2 linked regions of the Homo sapiens genome follow. The protein of the gene in region 2 purifies or fractionates together with the protein of the main gene of each other region. This does not show direct contact. Each region holds a gene or a part of one and is shown on either strand. Other genes may lie near its edges. The genes, in order: EGLN1 and EEF1AKMT1.

Region 1 (3,830 bases), on a different chromosome or scaffold from region 2:
AGACTGGGATGCCAAGGTATGCAACTTAATTGAGCATTTATTTTTTTCTTACAGGTGTCTTTTTCTCAAAAGCATTAAGTTTCATACTTCTGATAAGACTGTCACAGACACAGTTAAAAATTTTCCTCTTAAATTTGTTTCAGTCTCAGGTATTAGGAGTGGATTTTTGTAAAATGAAACAAATACTACTCTATGTTATACAACATGATACCTGTAGTTAACAACGTAGTGTTGTGCACTTAAAAATTTAAGAGGGTAGACTCCATGTTCAGTGTTCTAAACACACACACATACACACACACACACACACACACACACGCACACACGAGGTTAGGGGAAGGGAAACGGAACTTTGAGAGGTGATGGATATGTTTATTACCTTGGTTGTGGTGTGTCATGAGGGTGTGCGTATATATCCAAACTCATCAAATTGTAAATGTTAAAGATATGCATTTTTGTATATCAGTTATACCTCAAAACCATATAAAAAAGTACTGATATATCTTAAAAAGTGGATTCATTTATTTTCAGATGTTAGAGCACTTATCTAAAATCTAACTTTTTTAGAAAGGTGACCTTTATTAAAATATTTTCCTTTTAATAGTTTTTAGAAAAACATTTCTGAGAACAGTTGTTTTATAATGGCTTTTGGGGGAGATTATCTATGGATAATTGTTAAGGATTATTTGCTATGTTATTCTTGGCATTTTTGTAAAAATATTATATGGCATTGAGTTGTTTAATTGAATATTGGAGGCAGGATTCAGTCTTTCCCTGATTATTAAAAAACTGGAAGTTTATCAGTACTGACAAGCCCTGTAAAACCAATTAGAATGTACAATATATTTAATCTCTCTTGTTTTAAATATATATTTCCTTAATATTAGCCTGAGTCTCATTAAATTTAAATGATTTTTAAAAAATATGTCATATATTACTACACTAGAGACTGTACAGACTAATTTTTTGGTTGATTTTTTAAAATCTTAAGTATAACATTCAAATAGAAAAGTGGCTTGTATAGTTCAGTGGATTTTCACAAAGTGAACATACCTGTGTAGCCAGGGTGCCTTTTTTTGTTGTTTTTAAGTCAAATAACCTTTAAAAAACCTCTTTCTCTGCATCCCCCAAAACACACAAATGGAAACTGCCTGAGTCTTAAATGTGCAAAAACCTAATCCTGCCCTAAAAAGTGTTTTAAGTTTAGAATATGCTCACAGTGCTTCACTAATCTTTCTAAAACACACTGATTTAAAGAGTTTTCTCTGCCCTAGTCCAGGTTCAAAATGGAGCTGACCTTTCTGCTGAGTATATATTGAGGCATGTCAACAAGCATGGTTTTTCTGTTACAGCTTTCAAAGTTTGAAGTAGAGAAATAAATTTTGTAATTGAATTTGAGCCCAAGGCACAAAACAGATGGGTGTAACTTTAGTTAAAATTTAAAAATTGACTTTTTTTCAGATTTTGTGAATAGCTAGAAAGCTAGAACTGTGTTTCATCAGCTTCTAACTTCTAGATTTTGTTAGGCTTTTTCTAGGCTGATCTTATAATTTCTATAATACTTAGTCAGGGTCATTAATGTGTAGGTTTTAAATTAGGACATAGGCAGAGAAACGTCCCTAGTGTTTTTGTGTGTAGAATAGAAATTTTCCATGCTAGATTGCACTGAATATGTAGTGTGTCAGTTGTTCTGGATGCTAGGGATGTAGCAGAAACGGAATTAGCCCTGGCAGAGCTTAGGATCTATTGGAGGATACAGATCAGAAAGATTGACAGTTACAGATAGTTATGCAAAGTGTCAAGACAGATTGCTATGGAGCACACAGGAGGGCCACCTAATTCAGAGGAGGAAGAGTGGAAGTGTCAAGTAGCCATTTCACTTAAAACATTTTCAGCAGGTCACCTGTGGTACTCCCAATGACTTGAGTCAAAGGGAAGGGAGCAGGAAAAAAGGAAAGAAGACATGTTCTCAGTTTGGAGGTTCTTTAGATGTTTGCATAGTAGCCTGGGGAATCACTCTGAACAACACTGGAACCTGAGGAAGGTTGGCAAGGGTATCAAAGTAGCTAGAATTTAACTTACCTGACAGTGAGCCTGATAAACCTTTTCTTTAACTATAGATTCTAGGTTTAGGCTCAAACGCCATGTTGTCCTGACCAGGTGTTAGAGTTTCTTTAAATTTTAAGAGTCTACCTGCTTAGGAGTGTAGTTATTCAAGAGTAAGGAGCTACTTGGTTGGTTGGGTTTTGCCTATCCCCAGATCGTAAACCCCGCAAGGACAAAGTCTGTCTGCATTATTCCCTACTCTGCACCCAGAGCCCACCACAGTTCCCAGTGCGATTTGATGCCTAGTTGGTGTTTAGGTAAATAATAATCCTTTATGGGTAGAATCAAGTTTCACAAGCAGGTAGTCATCTGTGCATCAGGCCCAGTCTGGAAAGGGAGAGCCACAGGTTCTAATGAACTATATGCTGATGGTGATGGTGACGACGACAATAATGATGGTCATAATAAATGATGACACTTTCTACTGATATACTGAATTATTTAAGTAAGAGGTATTTGTGACTATCCTATTGTTTATTGAATTTTAAAGTATGGTAAACTATTTGACATAATTTATTTCTAATAATAATTTTGTCAAAATTTCTTGAAATCTATCTATTTGAAGGGTGGGTTAAGCAAATCATTAACATACAAAAATAAACGTTTAGTAGTTTTAAAAGCTTTCAAGCATCATTTTAAGACTTTTAAATTCAGATAACATTCTTGTGTTTCATCAGATATTTATAAAAATCCCTAAAATGGCTGGGGACAGTGGCTCACACCTGTAATACCAGCACTTTGGGAGGCCGAGGTGGGCAGATCACCTGAGGTCAGGAGTTCGAGTCCAGCCTGGCCAACATGGTGAAAACCCATCTCTACTAAAAATGCAAAAATTAGCTGGACATGGTGGCGCATGCCTGTAATCCCAGCTACTCGCGATGCTGAGACAGGAGAATTGCTTGAACCTAGGAGGCGGAGGTTGCAGTGAGCTGAGATTGTGCCACTGCACTCCAGCCTGGGTGACAGCGAGACTCCATCTCAATAAATAAATAAATATCCCTAAAATAAGAACTAAATTTGTCCTTGCATCAGTGCATATACTTTTAAAATTGCAGCTCATCTTCATACTTTATTGAGACGTATTTGTGAATAATCCAATTAAGACATTGAAATTGTCTCTTTTTTTCCCCCTAAATTTAATCTTGTAGCATTTTTGGTTACTCCTGCTTACATATTTGGCTCTTTTCCTAGGTAAGTGGAGGTATACTTCGAATTTTTCCAGAAGGCAAAGCCCAGTTTGCTGACATTGAACCCAAATTTGATAGACTGCTGTTTTTCTGGTCTGACCGTCGCAACCCTCATGAAGTACAACCAGCATATGCTACAAGGTAGTATTCCTTTTCAGAAAAAATTGGTTTAGAGTATGGTAGGACAGGAGGGAATCTGTAGAGTAAACGTGAAAGCTTTCTAATGAGTATTTTCCTGCCAGGTACTTTTCACAGTCATTTTAATTTGAATAATTGTATAAGATTTATGTTGCACAGTCATCTGAATTCAAATAATTATATAAGACTCATTAACAGTTAGTACTAAATGTGTCTTTCTTTGCACAGCCACTCTGAAGAAAGGGAAGCACAGGCCTTCCCATCTTTCTAGCACTCTCTCCGTGCTTTGTGCATCTCTTAACTACTATCCATGCTTTGATTTTTGTAAGAGTATTTTACTTGGGAGAGAGAAAGATCAAGAAGGAAAAGGGTTTTTTAAAAGGTGGTGAGGGACAACAT
Region 2 (3,830 bases):
CCCTGTACTAGGCTGTTTATTGCAGGACTATTCACAATAGTAAAGCCATGGAATCAACCTAAGCGTCCTATCAAAGATGGGCTGGATAAAGAAAATGTGCTACATATACACCATGGAATAGTACACAGCCATAAAAAAGAGTGAAATCATGTCCTTTGCAGCAACATGGATGCAGCTAGAGGCTATTATCCTACGTGAATTAAAAGAGAAACAGAAAACCAAATACCACATGCTCTCACTTGTAGACGGGAGCTAAACAATGGGTACAGGTGGACATAAAGACAGAAATAATAGATACTAGGGACTCCAAGAGAGGAGCCGGGAAGAGTGGGGGAAGGATTGAAAAAAACTACCCTATCAGATATTATGTTCAATATTGGGTGATGGGTTCACTAGAAACCCAAACTCCAGTATCACCCAATATACCCTGCACATGTATGCCCTGAATCTAAAATTAAAAATAAAATATGTTTTAAAATTTAAAAATATACATACTCTAAAAAATTAAAAAGAATACACAGATAAAACATCAAAATAATGGACACACTTAATGCTGATGAGAAGGTAGTGATATTGGTATACTCTCTAATTTAGATAACAATTTAAATTGGCATAATCTTTTGGAAAAGAATCTGATAATTTGGACATAAATATTTCTATTTTTCTACACCAATTCTCATTCCTAAGCTTTCTACTCTGAAATAATCACAGATTCACAGGAATGTGCAAAAATAATGAAGGTCCATCCCATGTATCCTTCCACCTATTTTTCCACAATGGTAGTAACTTATATAACTACAGTGCATTGTCAAACCAGGAAATGAACAGTACAATCCACAGAGCTCGTGCAGTTCACCAGTTTTACACACATTTATTTGCAGGCGTATGCACATGTGTATAGTTTTATATAATGATATCACGTGTAGATTCATGAAAACACTTCCATGGATAAGAGACAGAATATTCCAGCACCAAAGAGATGAGTTGTACTACCTTTTTAAAGTCATTCCCATCCTCTCCCACCTCAATCTCCATTCTTAACCCCTGGAAAGCATTTGTTCTCCGTTTCAATAATTTTGTCACTTTAGATAAATGGAATCATACATTATATAACTTGAGATTGTCATTTTCACTCAGCATGGTTTAAAATTTACCCAGGTTGTTCTGTGTATCAATAGTTTATTCCTTTTTATTGCTGAGTAGTAATCCATAGTATGGCCACACTTAACCATTCACCCACTAAAACATTTGGGTTGTTTCCAATTTTAAGGTATTACAAATAGAGCTGTTGTGAACATTCCTGTAAAATGTATAGGAATTTTCATTTTCATTTCTCTGGATAAATGCTCAAGAGTATGATGTTGGATTTTATGGTTAGAGTGTGTTTATTTTGAGGACATCAAAAAATTTATTTCATGATGATACATTATAAGAGGGTTTCATCAAATGAAGAACTGAATCCCTGTACTATGAGGTTTACTGTGGCCAGAGAAGTCAGGATTCTCTTTGCAGTCATGTAGTTGTTTTTGAAATGCCTATTGAAGTGAAATGTGCAAATTTTAAAACATTTGTATTGAGATCTAATTCATATACCATACAATTCATCTATTTAAAGTGTATAATTCAGGTGGAATGTGGGAGGCTGAGACAGGAGGATCACTTGAGCCTAGGAGCAGCCTGGGCAATACAGTGAGACCTTGTCTCTACAAAAATGTTTTTAAAAATTAGCTGAGTGTGATGGCATGTGCCTGTAGACCCAGCTACATGGGAGGCTGTGGTGGGAGGATCACTTGAGTCTGGAGGCATAGGATGCAGTGAGCCAAGATCATACCACTGTATTTCAGCCTGGGTAACAGAACGAGAACCTTTATTTTTCGGGGTCTTCCAATCCATAAAACATGGCACATCTCTCCATTTATTTAGTTCATCTTTGATGTATTTCATCAGTCTTTTTTTTTTTTTTTTTTTTAATTTGAGGCAGAGTCTTGCTCTGTTGCCCAGGCTGGAGTGCAGTGGTGCATTCTTGGCTCACTGCAACCTCCACCTCCTGGGTTCAAGCGATTCTCCCTGCTTCAGCAGCATCCCCAGTAGCTGGGATTACAGGCACCTGCCACCACGCCCAGCTAAATTTTTTTGCATTTTTAGTAGAGATGGGGTTTCACATGTTGGCCAGGCTAGTTTCGAACTCCTAACCTCAAGTGATCCGCCCACCTCGGCCTCCCAAAGTGCTGGGATTACAGGCATGAACCATCGTGCCTGGCCAGGACTTCTAGTGAGCTGAATAGGAGTGATAAGAGCAGATATCCTACACTTGTCCCAGATTTTAAGTGGGAAAGCATTCAATCTTTCACCATTAAATATGATGCAGCCACAACCTTCTGGGCTCAAGTGATCTTTCCACCTCAGCCTCCCAAGCAGCTGGGACTACAGGCATGCGCCACCATGCCCGGCTAACATTTTTATTTTTTGTAGAGATGGGGTCCCACTCTGGTGCCCAGGCTGGTCTCAAACTCCTGAGCTCAAGTGTTCCTCCTGCCTCAGCCTCCGAAAGTGCTGGGATTACAGGTGTGAGTCACTACACCCAGGGTGTAGATGTTCTATGTTAAGATGAGGACATTCCCTTTATTAGTAGTTTGCCAAGTTTCATCATGAATGGGTGTTGAATTTTCAAATAACTTTTTGATATCAACTTATACGATCATGTGATTTTTCTTTAACCTCATGATATAAATTAAACTGATTATCTATTAAACCAGTCTCACATTCCTGGAATAGGTTCCACTTAACTGATTCTTCTTATGTATTGCTAAATCATATTTACTAATATTTTGCTGAGGATTTCGTCACCTATCTTCATGAGGTATATTTGTCTATTGTTTTCGGTCTTTGTATTGTCTTTGGTTTTGGTAACAAGGTAATATTGGTCTCATCAAATAAACTAGAAATGTCTCCTCTTCTATTTTCTGGAAAAGACTGTGTACAATCAGTGCTAACGCAATAAACATTTGGTAATTTTTTTCAGTGAAATCATGTGCTATGGATTCAATTGACACACCACCCCCCTCCCACCCTGCACCCCATTTATATGTTAAAGCCTTAACCCTCATTGTAATTATATCTGGAGATGCTAGGTTGGTGCAAAGGTAATTGCTGTTTCTGCCATTACTTTTAGCCACCCAGTCTACGGTATTTTGTTATAGCATCCCTAGCATTTAAGGCCCGAAATTTTTGTTTTTTTTTTTTGAAACAGAATTTTGCTATTGTCGCCCAGGCTGGAGTGCAATGGCTCGATCTCAGCTCACGGCAACCTCCGCCTCCTGGGTTCAAGCGATTTTCCAGCCTCAGCCTCCCAAATAGCTGGGATTACAGGTGCCTACCACCCACCCTGGCTAATTTTTGCATTTTTAGTAGAGATGGAGTTTCACCATGTTGGCCAGGCCAGTCTCAAACTCCTGACCTCTGGTGATCTGCCCGCCTAGGTCTCCCAAACTGCTGAGATTACAGGCATGAGCCACCATGCCTGGCCTGAAAATTTCTTGTATGAGAGGCCTTTAACTGCAAATTCAATTTAATACTTACACGGCTATTCACATTATCAGTTTCATATGGGGTGAGTTCTCGTAGTTTGTAGTTTCAACGAATTGGTCTGCTTCATCTAAGTTGTTAAAATTTATCTGGATAGAGATGTTTATAGCAGTCCTCAATTATTTCTAATGTCTTTAGGATCTGTACTGATATCCCCCATTTCATTCCTAATGTCAGTAATTTCTGTTTTCTCTTTTTTCTTACTAAAGGTTCATCAATTTTATTGATCTCTTTTAAAAAATAAG

What was found.
Region 1: the proteins of EEF1AKMT1 (region 2) and EGLN1 purify together in Homo sapiens (affinity purification with mass spectrometry; 2 studies listed by BioGRID and IntAct, with this or other methods). This does not show direct contact.

The regions. Positions count from the first base shown.
Region 1 is NC_000001.11:231,370,166-231,373,995, reverse strand, and holds part of EGLN1 (egl nine homolog 1), read left to right. Parts: coding exon 1-16; intron 17-3,297; coding exon 3,298-3,434; intron 3,435-3,830. UniProt on the Homo sapiens protein: Cellular oxygen sensor that catalyzes, under normoxic conditions, the post-translational formation of 4-hydroxyproline in hypoxia-inducible factor (HIF) alpha proteins.
Region 2 is NC_000013.11:20,760,227-20,764,056, forward strand, and holds part of EEF1AKMT1 (EEF1A lysine methyltransferase 1), read right to left. Parts: intron 1-3,830. UniProt on the Homo sapiens protein: Protein N-lysine methyltransferase that selectively catalyzes the trimethylation of EEF1A at 'Lys-79'.